2 separate regions of the Homo sapiens genome follow, and region 1 is linked to region 2. The links come from fine-mapping of genetic effects on gene expression. Tissue or cell type: nasal epithelium. Region 2 holds a variant in brackets; the other region holds the start of a gene. All regions are shown on one strand. Distances are from middle to middle.

Region 1 (11,436 bases), 27 kb before region 2:
TGTCACTCTCCCCTTCCTCCCTTGCTCCAGATATGGTTATAGCACTGTTTTATGATGTGGATGAAACCAATATTTCGGTGGTCACATTTCTGGAAGTATGTGACGATCATTCACGCTGAGCCATGTACTGTGCTAAGATTACTTGTTCTCTCTTATGTAACTCTTTACCTCTGGAATGAATAATTGATTTATTTTTGTTTTAATTGGCTTAGTTGGTTGGTTTTGCACGCAAAGCTCCCTGACAGAACTGTGCATCACGTCCTGATCCATGCGCAAACATTATTCCCTCTTTCACTGAGACAGCCCTCCTAAAGGCCCCTGTCCTGCCCGTATTTGGGAGAGGTGGTTCTCCAGGGCCACCGTGTTCTCCTTGCCATCATTCTGGAATTCCTCTCTCCTGCTCTCCTGGGTTGGATGCCCTGTGTTCTGGCACCCGTGTCTTCCTATGTCTTGGTTGACTTTCTCCAGTTTGTTGCACACATCCCTTTTAGTGGATGAAGAGATAAAAGTTGGTTTTGTTTCCAGATCAACATAAATTAACAAATGGAATTCATCTCATGTGGGATCCACCAATTCCCATTTTACTTTGTAGACTCAGGATTATGGTCAGATTTGTTTTTTTCCTCTAGATTCAGTAAGCCTTCTACACTTAAAAACTTTATCTGAAAATCCAAGCTGTGGCCATTGCAGGAAACAATAGCATAAAGTGTGCTCCATTTAAAGAAGAGGATAATTTGAACTAAGAGCCTTCAGTCCACTGAAAAGTGAGCTCTGGAGACTCTGGTAGGTGATGTGCAGATTGTCACGTGTGCTGGCCTCACACAGCTCTTTCTCACACCTCTGCCCTCCATGTGGCCTGTGGGCTGTCAGATGTGGCTCAGAACTTTGTTTGCCACACTTCATTTGAGCACAAAGTATAGGGCTTGGACAGGTGTTGGGGACTTCACGGTGGCTTCTGAAATGGTTTCCCAGAAAGGCAGTGACTCATCCCAGGAAACCCTTTTGTTTTCTTTCTGACCTTCCCCCAACTTCCTGCTCCACCTATCTGTGCATGAGTTTTCACATTCCTCACCAAGAGACAGCAGCTCACCTCTAACTTTAGTCAACAGTGGTGACTGGAGACAGTTCTGGGAGTAAGACAAGGACACCCCTTCTGACAGTAACGTCCATGAGGGTACTAGGTTTTTCCTCCATGTCTTGGCATCTCCCCTTTGAGGCATGTGTTAGTTTCCATTCCATGACCCTTAGAGAATCCCTTTTCCAACGTCCTTAATCAGAGTAGATTGGAACATTATAAAAGACACAGGTTTGGCTGGGCACGGTGGCTCACGCCTATAATCCCAGCACTTTGGGAGGCTGAGGCAGGAGGATCATGAGATCAGGAGATCAAGACCATCCTGGCCAACATGGTGAAACCCCATCTCTACTAAAAATACAAAAATTTATTTGTATTTTTGTGTGGTGTGGTGGCGTGTGTCTATAGTCCCAGCTACTTGGGAGGCTGAGGCAGGAGAATCACTTGAACCCGGGAGGTAAAGGTTGCAGTGAGCCGAGATAGCGCCACTGCACTCCAGCCTGGGGACTCCTCCGTCAAAACAAAACAAAACAAAAAACCCCCACAGGTTTGCCCTCTTAGCCCTTGCTTTAATGTGGGATTACTTTTGCACAACACAACTCTTTTTCTAGAAAATATACATCACTATATATTGAGTAACCGATATTCAATATTTTTGGATTGATGTGAGCTAACTGGAGAGGAGGTTTGTAGTTGCTGACCCACTGTGCTTCAGACATAGCCAAGAAGTTCGAGGCTAGCCTGGGCAACATAGTGAGACCTCATCTATACAAAAAAATAAAAAACATTAGCTGGGTGTGGTGGGACACGCCTATAGTCCCAGCCAGTTGGGAGGCTGAGGTTGGAGAATCTCAGCTGAGGTCTTCAATAGATATATATTGGCATGAATTATACAATTCAAATTCCTGTATGTTAAAAGGGATCTTAAAGATCACCCAGTGCTCCTTTTCCATTTGGAAGACAAGGATCCTGAGGTCTAAAGAAATTGCTTTCTCATGGCTGCCCAGCCATGTCCTTGGCCTTATTGGTCCTGGCCCTTCTAAGGCTACTACTCACACCTGCCTGTGTGCTGCTCTCCCGTTGAACTCCAGTCCCTCCTATCTGCACTTCTTCACTCTGCACCTCAGGGTATAGTTCTCAGGCTGCAAAAACCCCTTGGCAAAGTCCTACCCTTCCTTTGCCACTGGCTTCCCTGAAGCCCCCTCCCTGGTTCTAGGCTTCTCTCTAGACTGCAGGCAAATTCAGATTGGTGATTTTGGTTTCCTTCTGCTGAGAATCCATGACTTCCCATGAAGGATATGTTTCAAAATAATTCTTGAAAACTCGAATAGGAAAATGCTCACTAAAGAAATTTTGAAGAAGACACAAAAAGGTGATGTTTAGCTTTTCTGGTATTTCTTTGGGCATTTCTCCACTAGATCCCCTTCCTCCTAAGCAATAGGTTGTTTGTATTTTTTATTATAATCCTCACCTTACTCATTCAATTTTGTGTCCTGCTATTTTCCCTTTGTGCTCTTTTAGTGTAACTTTATGACAGATGGATTGGGAACAAACACACTTTTTAAAAGGAAACTTCTGTAGACTACTGCCACCTATTTATAAAAATAGGTTCTAGGCTGGGTGTGTCTGTAATCCCAGCACTTTAGGAGGCCAAGGCAGGAGGATCACTTGAGGCCAGGAGTTCAAGCCTAGCCTGGGCAACATAGGGAGACTCCATCTCTATAGACAAAAATTTTAAAATATTAGCTAGGAGTGGTGGCACACACCTGTGGTCCCAACTACTCAGGAGGCTGAGGTGGGAGGATCACTTGAATCTGGGAGGTCAAAGCTGCAGTGAGCTGTGATCACGCCACTGCACCCTAGCTTGGGCGACAGAGTGAGACCTTGTCTTAAAAAAAGAAAAAAACAAAAAAAAGGAAAATAGGTTTCTTTACTTTTTGGTAGTGCAAACAACAATGTGCACATTCAAGGCTAGTGTTTGGAGACAGGAGCCATGCTCCATATGCCTCTACATCTTCCAGTCTTCCCCACCGCTCCTTTGGGGGAGTTGGGGGTTGCATTCTCTGTTATTGCCAATGGGGCCTGTGTTTTCTAATAGTCTATGAGTCAGAATCCTTCCTCTGTCACCATATCCATATTCAATCCTGTCTTCTAGTCTCCATGATGGGAACTTGAGAGCCTCAGCACCATCTTGACCTGTCTGTCATCTCTTTGATCTCTCATTTACTGTCAGTCTGTTGTAAAACTCTGCAGCCTTGATACCTGCATACCCCATAACTCTGTGAAAGCAGGAACCGAGTCTTCCCATAAGCCTTAGATCTGTCTCTTTATCCCCAGTGTGATGTCAAGCATAGAGAAGACACTGATACATGTATGGTGACTGAATGAATGAATGCACGAATGAATGATATAATTGCAGTGCAGAGTAGTCTTCCCTTCTAGTGATTCCAAAAGCAAAATCAAGACTGGAATAGTAACATTCTCTTCAGTGCATTTACTACCACAAGTGCAGAAACAAACAATAGGAAACTGAGAATCAGAATGGGTTGAGATTTACCTTGGATGCAAATGATGGTTTCTGGTTTCTCAAGCCTCTTTCTCTCTCCTCACAGCCCACAGTCCCTGGGAATTACAAAATTCTTTTTATCATTAAAGAATATTAAATGGCTATTTTTTCTTTAATTAACTGTCCTTAATTTTGAGACCAAAGAAAAGGTTTATTTCCCAAGATAGCAGCAGCAAGCTCTGCTCTAAGGGAAAGCCCACATTTTTTATAAACTTTCCTTAACACCTCAAAATTTTAGTCCCAGGGTAACCTTGCTTGAGATGTAAAATTGCTATAAGTGAAAAACTACTTACTCAGCAATATAAAAGAATGAACAATTGATACATACCACAACATGAATGATTCTCAAAATAATTATGTTGAATTAAAGAAGCCAGACCCCCCCCATCCTCAAAAAGCATATATACTGCATGTTTCCATTTATATAAAATTATAGAAAATGCAAACAAATATATAATGAAAGAAAGGAGGTCAGTGCTTATCTTGTGGGTAGGGAAGGAAGAGCAGGGAGGCAGGGATGATAAAGGGGCACTGGGAAACTTTTTGGTGGTGATGGATGTGCCGGTGATGGTTGATTGTTGTGATGGTTTTGTAGGTGTGTGCCTGTGTCAACGCATATTAAATTTTATATTGTAAACACATGAAGTGTATTGGATGCCAATTATATGCCAATAAAGCTATTTTAAAAATTGCTTCTGGTGGAATAGAGTCTTAGTTTAGGCTGCTATAACAAACCACTATGGACTGGGTAGCTTCAATAACAGAAATTTATCTCTCACAATTCTGGAGGCTCAGAAGTCAGCAGATCCAGTGTCTAGTGAGGGCCCTCTTCCTGGATTAGAAATAGCCATCTTCTCTTTGTATCCCCACATGGCAGAAACCAGAGAGAGAGCATCTCTGTCATGTCTTTTCTTATAAGGGCTCTAATCCCATTCAAGAGGGCTCCACCATAATGATATAAAAACTTCTGGAGGCCCCACCTCCAAATACCATGACATTGGGGATTTAGGTTTCAACTTATAAATTTGGTGAGGGAGACACAAATATTCAGTCCATAGCAGAGTCCTGCCCATCACCCTATATGTCCTACCTCATTTTCCAGCTTCCCGCCACTAAAGGATGATCATCCCCGATTTTGTTCCTCAAGTACAATCGGTCTTTTGCCATGGTAGACGCTGAGATTTAATTGCTTCCTCTGGAAGTACAGAAACTATTTTAACCGGGCTACTGTTCCCTCCTGGTTAATTCCCTGAGCCTCCTGAGTGCTGCAGACAAGTTTGTCCTCTTTTTCTATTTCACACCATTTTAAGGGTTGCCTCCCTCACAGTCCAGTGGCATGTTTTGGATAGACAGCAGCCGATTGGGCACCTGTATTACTGTCTGTCTGGGCCATGACTCACCAGCCCCAATGATAACAATCCTTAGACCTTTGACATGTTTTCAGGATGCTTTTCAAAATACCTATTGGTTCCACAAAGGAAGCCCTGAGACAGTGAGTGACCCACCAGTGTTTGCCTCTTCTTCTCTTGTGTATTTCTTTCATTACTCTCCAAGGTGCTTTAATATTAGGTAGTTCCAGATCAGCAGTAAGAAATGCAAACAAATACCCTCCTCAGAAGTTCAGCATTATTTTACTGTCTTTGAAATATTTTCAGAACTTAAGGGAGAATCAGGAATGAGTCCCTGGAATTATATAGATGTGGGACATCATTGACCAGCTGAGGTAATGACTGTTCTTCCATCTTGCAGAAACAACAGGTCAAGGCTCTGAGTGGTTAAGTAAATAGCTAAGACCTTGAGCTAGAGCAGGGAGACTCAAACCCGTGCTGGTTTGTGGACAAGGGAAGAAATGGAGAGCAATTGTTTAGAAACGTTCATAGCAATATGATGGAATAGTTTTATGACATAATAACAAAAAAGTTGAGCTTGTATTTTATATGCCTGTTATTTTTAACTCTTTTCTAATAATTCATTTTTGTTTATTCTACAAAATTGAGGATTCATAGTAGATTGGAAATTTTAGAAAAAATCAGCGGGCCCTTTATCACAGATTTCTTGAGAAGCACTCAACTAATTTCATGGTCTCTGCAGGGCGGTTCTGGGTGCCTTCCTTCCAGTGAAGATCATGAGTACCTTCCTTCCAATGGAGATGATGGGTGAACTGTGGAGAGATGGAGACAGTGCCAGGGAGGAGGATGTCCCCTTCATCTCTGGTTCCTTTTCCTTTTCCTCCACATGCATCCCTGGAGAAGCACTCCACCAATAGCAAGCAGAGTTGAGACTAGAATAGAGGAGAATGCAGTTAGAGAAGGGCTTGGAAATGGCAAGGTTGGCAGGAAAAGCTTTGTGGTTATCACCTAGCATGCTGACTTAGGCAAATGCCCTGTACTCTGGACCTCAGGAGCAGGTGGAGGAAGCAGCTGAGAAATATCTCACTAGTTTGGAATGAAGCTGGAATTGTGAGTTCCACTATGTTTAAGACGCTCGTATAACCTAAGAGGAGGGAAAAAAAGGCTGCCTGTCATCACCCTGTAGTGTGAGGCTAGACATCGACATATTCCGACGGAGTCACTGATCAGAGGAACTTCCCTTTAAAAACATGGAGGGATCAGCACACTGCACAGGTACATTGTAGTGAAAAGAGATGGGATCAGAAAAGGGCTGAGCCTAAGATGGCCTCATTATCTGTCTTAAAATGGGGAGATCCAAGCAGCTGAAAGGCATCAGGAAGATGTCACCATCTCATTTCACAGCTGTCTCTGCTGGTCCCTGTTTGCTTTTGTTTCAGTAAATCGTAGTGTGAAGTAATGTTCATGTTCCCAGGGGACATGGAACAGCCTACTGCCCTGCTTGCCTTTGAAGCAGTTAGCTGACAACACCTTCACTATCACATCTTCTGGAGAGGTGGCAGAAAGAGATGATGCCTTCCTTTTGTTGACTTTCATACATGATTATATGTCTGGACACTCTTACTGACATCAATGTGCTTGTTGACTGGGAGGACAGGATCAGGTTGAGTGGGTTCAGGCTTTTTACTATGAGAAAAGCTTTTGCTCTTTACTTCGGGAAATGAAGGAAACACCCAGCCCTCTTGCTTGTTTGTTAAATTAAAGGGTGACTTCTGCATCGTAAACTGCCCTGGAATATATCTTGGTTTTGACTTGGGTAATGATGCACACATGCCTCAGTGTGCCTGCCCTGTGGCCTTATTATTATTTAGTCTGACATGTTGGGATTTGGGAGAGGGTTGAGATTAGAGCTTAGGGCTTATGTTGGTTAGCACCATCATGGGAGGAAGGGCCTGCAGCATGGTGAGCTACAGTCAAAGAGAAGCAGAATTGGAAACTCAGCTACCTTTCCCTCTTGTGCTAAACCCAAGTTTGTGACAATGCAGTCAGAATTAGTTACTTTCGGGGAGGATTTGCAATATCTGGACCCAACTGCAGTAGCAGTAAAGAGATTGACAAAGGAGGGCAAGCATAACATGTAAACTATTCCCAATGAATGGTTTAGAAACTCGTAAAGCCAAACTGGCACTTTCTAGGGATGAAGTGACGGACCTACCGCGACTAGGGAGACCAGGCTGTGGTTCTAGGTGTTTAGCTCTCCCAGTTTGTCTGTCCTGAAATAGCCAGAAACAAAATTCAACCCAGTGTCACTGCTCCCCAAAATTTACAATCTTATTGGCTAATAAGACTGGCCCAGCATGAAACAATGGTAATAAGTGCAGATTGTGGCCAAGATGACAGGTAATAGAGTTGTGTCAAAATACAGGGGCTGACGTGGGTCAGAGGAGACAGGGAAGGCTCCTGGGAAAGTTGGACTTGAATTGGCACTGAGTCCTTCCCTCGTTTGGATTCAGATGGGGTTTGAGTCCTAGATTCACCAGGACTTACTTTGAGCAGGTATATAAGATCTCTGAACATCAGCATTCTCATCTACAAGATGGGGAAAATAGTAACAATGTCCTAGGCTTTTTGCGAGCATTAAATGACATAAAGTACCTAGCGATTAAGTGGTCAGTAATGTTAGATCATCCATTACTTCCATGGCTACAAAGAATTCCCTCTTTCTGGGACTGGCTCACGAATCTGGCCACAACATTCAAATTTGTAAGGCTGCTATTTCTGCCTGGGGTGAGGTGCCTGGGTGGTGGTGGGAGTGGGGAGTGGTATAAACAAACCATGAGCTGCTTTTCCTAACTATGTACCCAGTTCCCCTAACTGAATTACAAGTGTCTCTTTTTTTTTTTGGAGACAGAGTCTCACTCTGTCACCCAGGCTGGAGTGCAATGGCGTGATCTTGGTTTACTACAACATCTGCCTCCCAGGTTCAAGTGATTCTCCTGCCTCAAGCCTCCCAAGTAGCTGGGATTACAGGTGCCCGCCACCACACCCGACTAATTTTAGTATCACAAGTGTCTCTTAAACTAGAAAATCTAAGGCATAGCTTGCATTGAGAGGGATATTTTGTCCAAGTACTCACTTGGCTGAAAAGACCAGTTTTCATCACAAAGCTGATATCACATTTTTGAGCTGCTTGGCTTCCCTTCCTAGCCTCTCCTAATTTGTAAACATTTCTCAATTTTACTATACACAAAATAGGAAGTTATGAAATCCCAGCTCTGAGCTTGAGTGCTGTTCATTCTGGAAAAGCAGGCCTAGGAATCGGTTGATTTTAAACTAATTTTAATCAGTAAGAACTTGGTCATGAACCGAGAAGAAATATAGCATAATGGTTAGGAGCAGGGACTCTGGGTTCAGACCACCTGGACTTGCTTCCTGGCTCTGTCACCTTGCTATCTGCATGACTTTGGGTAAGGTATTTACTCTCTGTGCCTTAGTTTACTCATCTGTTAAATGGGAAAATAATGGTACACATCTCATAGTGTGGTTGTGATGAGTAAATTAGTCAACATATATGTGAAGTGCTTAGAGCAGTAAGTGGCTGATGTAAGTCCTAAATATGTGTTAGCCATCATTAATATCATTATGTCCTGGTGAAAAGGGGAGAGGGAAGGTTTAAGGCCCTGATGGATGCGGTCCCCCTAAACAAGAGGGCACTAAGAGAGCCAGCACCAGCTGGGCCTGGCAACAGTGGGAGGCAGGGAAAAGAATACTCTTAGGAAGGTATGGCCCAACTGCCAGATCCTAGTGAGAGAGCCCAGGTTGAATCAATGACAGGAATCTGCCAGCAGAGAACCCCTTTAGAATTTGACTGTCTCCATTCCAGAATTCTGGGCTTCCTGGGACATAGCCTCTCTGCCAGCCTGCCCAAAACCTTTTTCAGTAAGGATGACACACTTAGACAGGGCTGACTCAGTAACAGGCCCTTTGTTCTGTCTCCTGGACCTCTGGGTGCCACTGTCTGTACATGTCCAGCTTGGCAGGCAGCTGGCATCCTAAGGATTCAGGTCGTTATCAGCTGGACACTGACTAAACAGAGCCCCTCCCAGCCAAGTGATGTGTGAGGCAGTGCACGTAGGCCTGCATACCTCATATCTCTGCCCGGGCAATTACAACCCAACCACCCTGCCCCATTCCAAGGCAGCTGGAGCCAGCTAGGGCACAGCGTTTGGGGCAGAAGCCAGGTATTTTTCCTCCTTTTATCCTTTTTGATTCCGTAGGCATTTTCTTCTAAGCTCAGGATCTAACTGCAATGTCCCACATGGGAAAACAAACCTGAGAGGCAGGAACTAGGCCGTGTCTGCTCATGATGCTGCCTTTTACTGCTCTGAAATGGAGCCAAAAAAAGGCGCAGCCTCTGTCCTCCAGGACAGAAAAGCTAGAAGCAGTGTGTCCTTTCCCTAGCCGCTGTTTGCCTTTTGAGCATGTTGCATATACCCGCACATTAGTGGTGCACTGTCTAGTCTGGTGTTCAGATCTATATTTAAATACTACTGTGGGATTCAGAGTCCAAGTGTGTAAAGTGCAAGCCTGGGCTTGGCCAGGCATCAAGGTTTGCGGCCTACCCAGTGGGTCCTTAAAGCTGGCCTCTTGCATCAGAAGTGATCCCATGCACTTCTGATGACAGTTTGTGACAACTCCCTCTGGTTTGGGAAGTCTCCCTGTGCATGTTCTCTTATCTCAGCCGAGAGGACCACGTGTGAATATTAACAATTGGTACCATTTATTGGACGCTTGCTCTGCACCAGACAGTATGCTGAAGGTACTTTCTATAACAATTTCCTGTACCCATCTCCCATCCCCAGTGCTTCAATGGAGGTAGTGGATCAATTCTGCTTTACAGATGAGGACACTGAGATGCAGTGACATTAGGTAACTTAAGGTCACCCAAGTAGGAAGTGGTAAGGTCAATATATATATATTTTTTGAGACAGAATCTCACTGTGTCTCCCAGGCTGGAGTGCAGTGGGGGGTGCTCTGGGCTCACTGCAACCTCCACCTTCCAGATTTAAGCGATTCTCCTGCCTCAGTAGGAATAGCTGGGATTACAGGCGTGGGCCACCATGCCTAGCTGATTTTTGTATTTTTATTAGAGACGGGGTTCACTATGTTGGTCAGGCTGGTCTCGAACTCCTGGCCTCAGGTGATCTGCCTGACTTGGCCTCCCAAAGTTCTGGGATTACAGGCATGAGCCACCGCACCCGGATGGACCAGTACTTGGACAGTTTGATCCAGAGCATGTTCTGCAGCATCTCTCTGCTTGTGTCTCTCCAACAATTAAACCAATGCCTGGGAATTATCATCCTCATTGTGATGATTTTTATCAGCCAGCAGGGGCCAGAAGCTTCTATGTGGTGGACGCATTTGGCTAATTTGCTGTGCCGTTGGTGATAGGGAGAATAACACACACAAAAAAATTGAGTTATTTCCTTACTGATTTCTATTAGTTTGATTCAACAAATATTTAGTGAGCATTTGCATTGTGCAAGGCAGAACTAGCAAAGAGGGCTGCTACAAGGTAATTGCTTTCAAAGAGCTGGCACTCTAGAAAGAGAAATTGTCTTTCCAAATTCCCAAGATGGCCCACAAGGCCATCCTCTTCAGTCTCTTAAGGGCCGTCCTCTTCAGTCACATTGCTCTGCATTCCCCTCCTTTGTCTGAAGCCTCCTCCAAGTCCTTTTGTTTGGGGAGCTCCCTACTAGCCCAGGGCCTTGCACCTTCTGTTCATCAGCCTGAAATACTTCACACCTCTGCCTGGTTAACTCCTCATCCTTCAGGGGATTCTCTCCCACTCCCATAGAATAGGTCAGGTTCTCCCCTCTCATCTCATCACAGGTCCCTCTACTTTTAATTTTTGCAATTATTTGATTAATCTGTTACTGATGAGGGCACAGATGCTTTTGTTGTTCACCCCTGTATTCCCAGCACATAATAGGTGTTTGCTAAATATTCTTAAGGGAATGAAGATTACAGATTATTTATTCAAGCAAAAACTGGGGCATGTTAGTCCCCAGTCCCCCAAGAAGCAGACATCAAGACAAGATCAAACATGGCAGGATTTTAGTAGTGTGAAAGTCTACGAGAAAGTGGCAAGGGAGCTAAAGGAAGGTAAAACAGTCGTCACACTGTAAGTCTGATCCTAGAGTGAAGAAAGGAAGGCTGAGTGGAGTGTTGTGTTTTTTTTTTTTTTCCTTGAGACGAAGTCTCACTCATTGCCCAGGCTGCAGTTGAGTGGAGTGATCTCAGTTCATTGCAACCTCTGCCTTCCAGGTGCAAATGATTCTCCTGCCTCAGCCTCCTGAGTAGCTGGGACTACAGCCACACACCACCATACCTGGCTAATTTTTGTATTTTTAGTAGAGATGGGGTTTTGCCATGTTGGCTAGGCT
Region 2 (11,436 bases):
CCAACATGGTGAAAGCCGATCTCTACTAAAAATACAAAACAATTAGCCAGGCATGGTGGTGCACGCCTGTAATCTCAGCTACTTGGGAGGCTGAGGCAGGAGAACTGCTAGAACCTGGGAGGTGGAGGTTGCAGTGAGCTGAGATTGCGCCACTGCACTCCAGCCTGGGCGATAGAGCAAGACTCCATGTCAAAAAAAAAAAAAAAGAAAATTAATAGTTGTATGATATGTGAATGCCATCTCAACAAAGCTGTTTTTTTATGAAATTATAGAAAAGACAGGTAAACAATGGGAATAAAATCAAAATCACCAATAATCCCAGTTCCCAGAGATAAACCACCAATAGCATGATTTGTTTTACTATAATTTTCACTGTGTAAATGCAAAACTGAAGTGATGCAATAGTGTTGAAATCTCCCTTTCCTTTTCTTTCTTCCTTTCTTTCTTTCTTTCTTTCTTTCTTTCTTTCTTTCTTTCTTTCTTTCTTTCTTTCTTTCTCTTTCTTCTTTCTTTCTTTCTTTCTTTCTCTCTCTCTCTCTTTCTTTCTTTTTTTGAGACATGATCTCACTCTGTCACCCAGGCTAGAGTGCAGTGGCACAATTGTGGCTCACTGCAACCTTGAACTCCTGGGCTTATGCTACCCTCCCACCTCAGCCTCCCAAAGTGCTGAGATTACAGGTGCATGCCACTATGCCTGGCTCCCTTTTCATTTAATGTATTATAAACATTAAATATTCCTCTGCCTCCGCGTAGTGTTCTGCTGTATAAATGTTTTATAACATACTTAAGCAACCCTCTATTTTTGGATATCTAGGCTGTCTCCAAGTTTTTGATAATGTTTTTGATAGCTGTCTAATGAGCATCCTTGTAGCTATATCTTTGAGCATATCTGTGATTATTTCTGAATAAATTTCTAGATATCTAGTCATTGAATCAAAGAATATGCACCCATCTAAGGCTTTAAAACACACATGACTCTGTGTCTGTGTGTGTGTGAGTGTGTGTGTATCACATAGGAAATAAATATTAGAAATCACATATTCAGATATGCTTATGGCTGCCAGAGTTTTGCGCTTCCTGGTTGTTGTTCATCCTTAATGTAATGAGAATAGTAATGGGGAACAACGGATGTTATATTCTCTCTCTCTGGTATGAGGTATGCTGGGAATTCCATGAAGACCATTTCTTCATGGTCCATTCCATTTCTTCATTCCATGAAGAACCTTCAGGAACATTCTTCCGTAGATTCTTAATGAAGCTAAACATTGTTTCAAATGATTATTGTCCACTAAATATAAATAAATATAAATATATTTATAATATTTATTATGTATCTAGATAAATACATATACATATATTTGTATATGTTCATATAAATAATACTTATATAATATATGTGTATATATAATAAATTTGAATCAATACCTTTTAGAAGGTATATATGTAGATGTATATATACACACACGCACTCACACTACATTTATACTAGCAGTGTATATCCTTGCACTTATTTTTATATACATTCCCCAACATTAAGTATTTAAAATTTTTCTTTCCAATTGCTCTAGTGAAAAATGACATCTTATACTTGTTATAATTTGTACTCCTTAGATTCTTAATGAAGTTTAATGTTGTTTCAAATGATTATTGGCCATTTCAAAATTATTTATGTCCTTTGACATAATTTTTTTCTTGTTTATCTTTTCATTAATTTGTAAGATTTTAAACAATTGAATATGGCTATTAGTTCTTTGTTATCTTTTTTATTTGAGTTAAACAAAAAACTCCACTGAAATGAAAGTGATGCACATTTTTCTTTAAAAGAAGAGCAATTCAATTTTAACTTTAAAAGAAGTTAAAATCAGTTACAGGTAAACAAAGCGTACCCCTGACCGCATACACCTGGTGTGTATATAGGTTTAACTTTGTACATTCCTGAGTTGCTTTCTGGAAAACACTTCCAAATGAAAAGCCAGATACCATCATCTTTACAAGTAACTGTGATGTTATTTTGAGATAAATTATTACTTTAAGTTAAACAAAGGAAAATTACCATTTTTGAGCATTAGCCAATCTTATAATCTCCCTTTCCAAAGAAGCTTAATTCAAACTATTTTTAAAGGTTAGTTTATGCTTTCTTTTAATTCAGCGGCTTCATGGGTGCCATATTTTTTCTCCATTTTAGCAGTAATCTAAATTGAGACAAACATAGGTCAGAATTTTGAACTCAAAGATAAATAAAAGGAATTCCAAAGACTGAATGATCTGCTAGACTGGCCGCTTTAGTAAATTTTGATGTTTGATACCATATTCCTCTTCTCCAGGAGAATGTCATGAACCTGGGAGGCAGAGCTTGCAGTGAGCCAAAATTGTGCTACTGCACTTCAGCCTGGGTGACAGAGTGAGACTCCATCTCAAAAAAAAAAAAAAAAAAAAAAAAAGAATTGTGAAATGTATGTGTAATTTTAAAAAATTATAATAGTAATTACTTCTTTTTAGTCACTGGCAGTAAGTCTCTTATTAACTAATGGAGATAATGATGGCAACTTCTTAACCCAAAAAGTAATTAAACGGCTCTGTTAAGTCCCCCTAATCTGGAAGAGGTCTGCTATCTTTACGCAGAGCAACACTGTCACTTGTTTCCAGATTGTGGGGTGAGAGTGAGGATAATTCTTTAAGTGATGAAGTTGGTTGTTTCCCATCTGTTGTGCCTCAGACACAGGCCTCCTTCTCTCTACCAATCACAAATATAAAACCTCTGCCCATAATTTGACCATCTGGATTTCCTGTCATCCCCTGTTTTCACACCTGGAGATTCAGAGCAGTTCTTTGATTGATGTTTTTCAAAATTGCCTCATAAAATCAAAGGACAGGCGAACAACATTTTTCTAAAATTGTAAACAGTAGAACCAACATTCAAAACTTTTGTTACTGCTTTTATAACCGTGAATAACCTTAGCTTCTGGGATTTTGTCAGAAGTGCTTTTTTTCTTTCTCTGAAGCAAGCCACCACATTCTCCCGAGCTGCTTGCATTTAACAATGTCAGGACTAAGATTCAAGTAGTGGGCCACGGTAGTCCCAGGAAGTTCAATATCAAGCACAATGAGTTCTGTATTCAACTTTAATTAAAATATCCACATGCAGCAGGGCGTGGTGGCTCACGCCTGTAATCCCAGCACTTTGGGAGGCTGAGGCAGGTGAATCACCCGAGGTCAGGAGTTGGAGACCAGTCTAGCCAACATGGTGAAACCCTGTCTCTACTAAAAATACAAAAAAAAATTAGCTGGACATGGTTGTACGAGCCTGTAATCTCAGCTACTTGGGAGGCTGAGGCAGGAGAATCACTTGAACCCAGGAGGCGGAGGTTGCAGTGAGCCAAGACGGCGCCACTGAACTCCAGCCTGGGCAACACAGCGAGATTCCGTCTTCAAAAAAACAAAACCAAACAAAACAAAATCCACATGCTCATGGTTTGCCTTCTCTTAGGGAGCCAAATACTACCTAAGTTTTGTCAGCTGGCAGGCTCTGCTAATAGAATGTCACTTAAAACACCACTTTGAATCTAAGGGCAATGCAATGCATTATTCTGAACTATTACTAAATTAGTTATTCCTCAAGCAGCAATTTGCCTATTTTTGCTCTTACCTAATTTTTAGGAGGAATGATAGACAAACATTAAGCATTGGTTTCTCTCTAGATCCCGTCAGTTTCCTCAAACACAGTAGTCTCCTCTGTTAGACCCTGGTGTGCTGCTGGGAATTACTGGGACTCACTGGCCAGCTGCTGTCTCTTCTCTGCGGACCTCTTTGCTTTTAGGGAGCAGGAAACTAATTCCTCTAAGTGTTATACACTTGGAGACCCTTTAGCATGAACAACGGTGAAGAAACAGAAGCTCTCGTTGCTTTCCTGCATCAGACAAAAGGCTGTGGCCACTTAAATACCACATTTTTACTTCCTTTTTAGTTCAGTTGAGGGAGCAGGTGCAACCCTGCAGCAAGATAAAGCTGACCCTTGCTAAGATTGTAGTGTCTGCTAAATGTACGCCAGCAAGGCAAGGCCTTGTAAACAATAATTAATAAATTTGAAAGGCCCAGGACACGAGAAGAAAATTAAATACAAGATTTGGACCATCCACTTTGACTCATGTGGCATTGCTAATCAGTGTGATGAAAAAAACCTTCATCTGTTAAGAATGTGGCATTTGAAACACATTGCTGCCTTGTTGGTAGGTTTACTTCCTCCTTTCTTTGTAAAGCTTCACAATGAGTATCCCAGTGTGAAACTGGAACTCAGTGTGGGGAAAGAGGACGGGTGGAGGAACCGTCATGTTATTAAGTTATTGCAAATATAGAGACTGGTGATTTCACACGTACACATTCCACATTACAGGAAGCTCACACGTCTAGGAAAAATCATCCCTTGTTGACCCCTCACCGCCAAATTTTCCATTACCTACCTCGAAAATCTCAACGTCCCAAATGGCTTGCTTATTTTTATCATGTCAATTGCTTTTCTATAGTAAAGTAAGAATACGGTCACTTGAATTTCAAGAATAAGAAAGCAATCTACATGAATTAAACAAATCTAAAGGACAAAAGAGATTTTTTCTGAGTCACTTGCAGATGATGATGTTCCTCCTTCACTCCACAGAGCTTCCTTAGTGATTGTCAAAAAACAAAAAAGAAACCAAAGTAACCTTGAGGTAGGGCCGTGGAAAATTTTACCCACTTCATTTGTTCACAGTTGTTCATTCCTTCTCATTTCTTTTCATTTTTTTAATAGAAAATGTTTACTTCTAACTTACTTTTCTAGTATAATAAGTAATCTCTAAACAAAAGCTTATAAAAATTCAAACACTGGCCGGGCGCAGTGGCTCACGCCTGTAATCCCAGCACTTTGGGAGGCTGAGGCGGGCGGTTCACTTGAGGTCGGACATTCGAGACCAGCCTGGCCAACATGGTGAAACCCCGTCTTTACTAAAAATACAAAAAATTAGCCATCCGTGTTGGTGCATGCCTGTAATCCCAGCTACTCGGGAGGCTGAGGCAGGAGAATCACTTGAATCTGGGAGGCGGAGGCTGTGGTGAGCCAAGATCAAGCCATTGCACTCCAGCCTGGGCAACAAGAGCAAAACTCTGTCTCAAAAAGAAAAGAAAAAAAAATTCCAACACTATAAAGGTATGTAAATTAAAAACCATCCACTTCCTGCCCCATCCTGCTTACCTCCCCGGAGTAATCGCT[G/A]TTGATCTTTTGGTGTGTGTTCTTCCAGCCACGTTTACTTTTTACATGTTTGGTAAGGCAGAGTCTGTGAGGGCTCCTATGAATCCTTGACAACACAGTAAGGAAGGACAGGCAGCTGGGTGGGGTTGCTTATGCCTCTCGTCTCAGCCCTTTGGGAGGCCAAGGCAGGACTGATTGCTTGAGGTCAGGAGTTTGAGACAACTCGAACAGCCTGGGCAACATAGTGAGACCCATATCTTTACAAAAAAAAGTTTTTTTAATTAGCTGGGCATGGTGGCATGTGCCTATAGTCCTAACGACTCCAGGGGCTGAGGAAGGAGAATCACTTGAGCCCAGGAGTTCAAGGCTGCATTAAGCTATGATGAATCTCCAGCCTGGGTGACAGAGTGAGACTCTGTTTCTAAAACATAAAAAAAATAAATAAAGGAAACACAGGCAAGGAAGGAACTGACTATGAATGGGCATATTTACAAAAAAAATTCATGAAGTAAAGGGGAAGGGAGGAAAGAGAGAGTTGAACTGGGGAAGAGAGAGATGAGAAGAAAGATGTACCTGCTTTCTCCTGTCTTGGGGAGTCAGCTCCTTGAGGGTAGGATTTCTGTCTTAAGCAGCTTCTTCTTCACACTAGAAGAATACCTACTAACTAGGTGGTGATGAATGAATGAATACGAATGAAGAGCAGGAACTAACTGGCTACTGTTAGCAGAGTTCACGGAAATAATTTTAGGCTTTTTCAGTTTATCAAAGCCTTGTTAAGCCGGTATTTTCTGTCTTTACCTTTGATTTTTCGTCAGTAAGCAACCAGCATGTGCTGCTTTCAGGGTTAGTACCACAAGTAGTTGTTGCTCTAAATTGAGCTAATATTAAAGATAAAAACCCTTCTAGAAGGAATCTGTACTCAGAAAAGGAAGTTTTAAACCATTAGCTCACTGGGGGATACTACTTGAAACATCATTAAGACAAAGTAGCTTCCAGGCCCACTGCCTCCTTTTGGGGAAAAGGGACCACAGGGAATTCTCTAGCCTTCGATATCCACTTCCCCCACCATTTTGGCGACGAATGGTTGAACCAGGAATTAACAACTGACCAAAAGACACACTGCTTTAGGCTTTTAGCCCCTAGGAGGTGGCCTAAGGTGGCACTGGATAGGGACTTTCTGAACCAGTCAAAGCCACTCTTGGGGGATTTGAACTAGGGACAGAGATGAACAGAGAGTTAGAGAAAAGCAGACAACTGATAGACAGCAGTCCAGTGTTGACACAGAAACTGAGAGACGTGGAAAGAAGGCAGTGAGCAGACACTATGAAGCAAGTAATGACTTCAGTAGAAGAGGATATGAATGGAGGCATAGAAAGGCATCTGCTAGCAGAAGATTAAGAAGAAGCAGCAAGTAGAGAAAGGACTCAGTGGAGGAGATGCTTCAGAAATGGCAGGCTGCTGGAGAAACTGCTGCTTCATCCTGAACCACGTTCCAGTTCTCCATGAGGCCTCACATGTAGCCCCAGAAACCATTTTCTTTGCTTCCTCAAGCCTCCTAAGTATCTTTATCCTGGAGTAAACGAGAAGGTCTCCATATTTTGCAACTTGAAAAACCCCCGTTCTAAAACGAGCAGGTTGTCTAGAGAGAACCATGAGCGTCCCTTCTGTTGTAATTTGAGAGGAGTATTGTAAAAAGACACATAGACCACCTGTGGGGAGCTTCACATGGTGGCCAGTGCTTTGCTGGGGTGACCACAATTCAGTTCTTGTTTTTTGCATTGTAGCTCTTGAAATTTGATTTAATCTGTGCAGCCAGTGTTGACTTACCCCAACTAGGAGATTTATAGATAATCTAATATGCAGATGTATAATGTGAGGCCAAACTTTCCAGACATAGGGATCTCTTTCTATAGTTTTTGATACTGTTGAATATCTTCTTATCAAAACTCTCGTTAGAGTTTTTACCGTTTTTCTTTTTTTTTTTTTTTTTTAGCATTACTTCTCTTTTTCCACTTTTGGGACCAAAAATATATCTAATTCTTGCTGTTTGTCCTTCATCTGCCTTTATTATCTCCTTGTTCTCCTTGGAAATACCCTCCACTGCCATGGTTCTCCTCTACCCCAGTGATATCTATCCATACAGCCCTCTCCACTCTAACACCCTGCCATATTTTCAAATCTCCAGGGGACATATTCACCTGAAAATCTCATCAGCCTCTCGAATTTAATGAGTTCAAAATGGAAATTATTTTCTTTCTCCGCAAAATTCTTCCTCCCGTGTTCCAACCCCTTCTCTAAAAATAGAACCTCAGTGAGCCAGTCCAAAGCTCGGGATTCTTTTTACTTCTTTTGCAACTCTATACCCAATAGCTATGATCACAAAGTCCTGGCAATTCCACCTATATAATATGAATTTCATTCATCTCTCTCTGTGTTCATTACGCAATGTGCATAGCAAATTGTGCCAAAACTTGGCAGCTTAAAATATGTCCATTATTTCATACAGGTTGTGAAGGCTGGGAATCTGAGAGTGGCTTAGCTTAGCTGATCTCTCATGAAGTTGTAGGCAAGTTGTTATCTGGGGCTGCAGTCATCTTAAAGGTTGACTACGGATGGAGAACCACTTTTAAGATCACTCATGATCAATGCCATTTTTTATAGAATTAGAAAAACTGGCCAGGCCGGGTGGCTCATGCCTGTAATCTCAGCACTTTGGGAGGCTGAGGTGAGTGGATTGCTTGAGCCCAGGAGTTTAAGACCAGCCTGGGCAACATGGCAAGACCCTATCTCTAATATTATTTTAAAAATTTTAAAAACTATTTTAAAATTCATAGGGAACAACAACAAAAAGAGCCCAGATAGCCAAAGCAATCCTAAATGAAAAGAACAAAGCCAGCAGCATCACATTATTCAACTTTAAACTACACTACAAGGCCACAGTAACCAAAACAGCATGGTGCTGGTAGAAAAATAGAGACATAGACCAATGGATCAGAATAAAGAAGGCAGAAATAATGCAGCATACCTGCAACCAATGGATCTTCAACAAAGTCCACAAGAAAAAGCAATGAGGAAAGGACTCCTAGTCAAGAAATAGTGCTGGGAAAACTGGCTAGCCACATGCAGAAGAATGATACTGGACCCTTATGTTTCACCATATACAAAAATTAACTCAAATGAATTAAAGACTTTGTAAGACCTCAAACTATTAAAATCCTAGAAGAAAACCTAAGAAATACTCTTCTGGACAATGGCCTTGGCAAGGAATTTATGACCAAGTTCTCAAAAGCAATTGCAACAGAACCAAAAATTGACAAGTGGGACCTAATTAAACTAAAGCTTCTGCATAGCAAAATAACCCATCAACAGAGTAAATAGAGAATCTATAGAATGGAAGAAAATATTCATATACTATGCATCTGACAAAGAATTAATATCCAGAATCTGTGAAGAACTTAAACAAATCAACAAGGAATAAATAACTCCATTAAAAAGTGGGCAAATCGGGAGTTTGAGGTTGCAGTGAGCCATGATCATACCACTGCATTCCAGTCTGGATAACAGAGCAAGACCCTGTTTAATTAAAAAAAAAAAAAAAAGTGAGCAAAGGTCATGAGCAGACACTTCTCTAAAGAAGACATACAAGTGGCCAAAAAATATGAAAAAATGCTCACCATCACTAATTACCAGATAAATGCAAATCAAAACCACGATGAGATACCATCTCACGTTAGCCAGAATGGCTATTATAAAAAAGTAAAAAAAAAACAAAACCCAGCAGATTCTGGTGAGGCTGCAGAGTGGGAACATAAATTACTTCAGCCACTGTGGAAAGCAGTTTGGAGTTTTCTCACAGAACTTAAAACTAAACTACCATTCAACCGTGCAATCCCATTACTGGGTATACACCCCAAAGAAAATAAATCGTTCTACCAAAAAGACGTATGCACTCGTATGTTCATCTTGGCACTGTTCACAATAGCAAAGACATGGAATCAACCTAGGTGCCCATCAATGGCTGATGAGATGAAGAAAATATGGTATATATACATCATGGAAAACTACACAGCCATAAAAAGAATGAAATTATGTCCTTTGCAGCAACACGGATGTGGCTGGAGGCCATTATCCTAAGCGAATTAACATAGAAACAGAAAACCAATTATCTCATGTCCTCACTCATAAGTGGGAGCTAAATCTTGGCTACACGCAGACATAAGATGGCAACAATAGACGCTGGGGACTTCAAAGTTTGGGGGGTAAGGGCTGGAAAACTTTCTATTAGGTACTATGTTTACTATTTGGGTGACACGACTAGTAGAAGCCCGAACCTCAGCACCAAGCAAAATATCCTTGTAACAAACCTGCACATGTACTCTCTGAATCTAAAATTAACATGGAAATTAAAGAAAAAAAATCACTCATTGTTGTAAGCAGATCTCAGTTCCTTCCTGGCTATTGGCTGGAGGCTTCAGTTCCTCACCATGGACTTCTCTACAGGGCTTCTCACCACATGACAGTTTACTTTCCCCACTTGGGGAGGGGTAGTGGGAGAGGAGGAGGAGTGGGTTGGGGGAGAACGTATGTGCTCAGGGTGGTAGCTGCAGTCCTCTTTAGAACCTAATCTTGGAAGTCACACACTATTACTTTTACCATATTCTGTTTGTTAAAAGGAAACAGCTAAGTCTAGCCTACACTCAAAAAGAAGGAATTAAGTGAGAAGTGTCCTTATGGACATATTTTTGAAACTACCACCCCCTCTTCTTCATTTCTGCTTCTGTAATCCTCTTTCAGTCCCCATCATTTCTTACCGGTATTTGTGCTTGACATAAAGACCAAGATCCTTAATATCGCCTACAGGGTTCATGTTATGTCTGTTTCTGCATTGCCACTGTATTCTATTTATCTGTCAGTCTGTTTTTCTCTATTCCTGAGTCTTTTTCTCCCTGTCTATTTCACGTTCAAACTCCCCAAGAGAGAGGCATTGATTGGTTCTGGCAATAACTATCTGGTGTCACTCGAGGTCACCTTATGATGACCTGGCGGAGGAGTCTAAAGGAGCCTGTCTTTTGGCCAGGTGTTGATACCTGGCTCAATCAGTGTGGCCAAGGTGGTGGGTAATTTAACCCTGCCTAACACTTTCTTATCTCAAACCACAATCTCCCAGGCCCCTGGTTCTACCTCCACTGGCCTTTTCCCAGAAGGTTTGGAGTGTCATTTCCCCTCTTGCCACAGAGCCTATGCTCGTCCTGTTCTTCTGCCCAGCAAACTCTTCTCTCCAGCCCACTCGGCCCACTCCTGCATATCTTTACATCTCAGCCCGGTGTCACCTCTTCAGCCTGACTTCCTCACCCCTCCATCTACGTTAAGGTGTCTTACGAGCTCTCAGAACACTCTGCACTTTTCCTTCACAACTCTTATTCGTTCGGTTATTTAACATCTCCTTCCTCCTCTAACCTGAAGCTTCCATGAGGGCAGGGACCATTTTGCCCACAATGTCTGGCACTTGCTATGAACACAGTGATTATTTAAAACACAGGGAATAATTAGTGTTTCTCCAACATTCATGCTTCTCCCTGGCTCAAACACTCTTGGTGGTCCTCTAGCGCGTGCAGGACAGAGCCACAGCTCTTTGGCTTGGTATTCTTGGCCCTTTGGGTAATCCGGGCCCATCTTGCCTTTCTGGTTTCAGTTCTCAGCACTCCTTTTAACAGACCCAAAAGTCTTAACTGCAATGGATTAGTTGCTATTTCCAAAGCGCTCTTTATGCTTTACTCTCTGAATCTTTGCTCACATTGTGCCCTGAATCCTGGAATGAATTCTCCCCACTGGGATTATATCAAAATCTCTTTCTAGAAAAACTTTCACTGTGTTTTTTGTATATTGCTTTTTTTTTTAAAATATAAACAAAGTACTAATTTTAAGAACTTTTCTTACATTAGTTCATTTAATGATTATGACAGCCTACAAGATAAATCCACTTAGTATTCACACAAAGCTTAAATAACTGGTACGGATAAACACCTAGTATGTGTCATAGCTGGAATCGGAACCCAGGTGGTCTGGCTCCAGAGTGCAACTATGGAATCTGCATACTTTCTCTGCTCCTAGACTCTTACTCTTTGAGGGTGGAGGGGGTGTCTTATCCTTCATTTTTTTATCTCCCCTAGGGGCTCACTCCAAGTAGTTTCTAACTAATGTTTAATAAATTAATG

What was found. PIP is the estimated chance that this variant, and not a neighbour inherited with it, causes the effect. A credible set is the group of variants that fine-mapping cannot tell apart.
Region 1: it holds the start of EGLN3-AS1, and the variant in region 2 is the best candidate, but not a certain one, in a credible set for the expression of EGLN3-AS1 in nasal epithelium (TOPMed, PIP 0.87).

What each region holds. Positions count from the first base shown.
Region 1 is chr14:34,033,466-34,044,901 of GRCh38, reverse strand. It overlaps EGLN3-AS1 (EGLN3 antisense RNA 1), which reads right to left and starts at 4,921. Exons shown (of 3, transcript NR_184209.1): 1 at 4,732-4,921; 2 at 3,633-3,697. All of the region lies in intron 5 of LOC102724945 (a long non-coding RNA gene), which reads left to right. RefSeq lists enhancers at 845-1,139, 740-1,139, 267-1,466 and a silencer at 1,985-2,279.
Region 2 is chr14:34,006,385-34,017,820 of GRCh38, reverse strand. The region is part of intron 5 of LOC102724945 (a long non-coding RNA gene); the gene reads left to right. Among named protein-coding and RNA genes, the nearest start is that of EGLN3-AS1, 28 kb to the left of the region's middle. RefSeq lists an enhancer at 3,677-3,846. The variant G/A (reference allele first, on the strand shown) is at 5,243.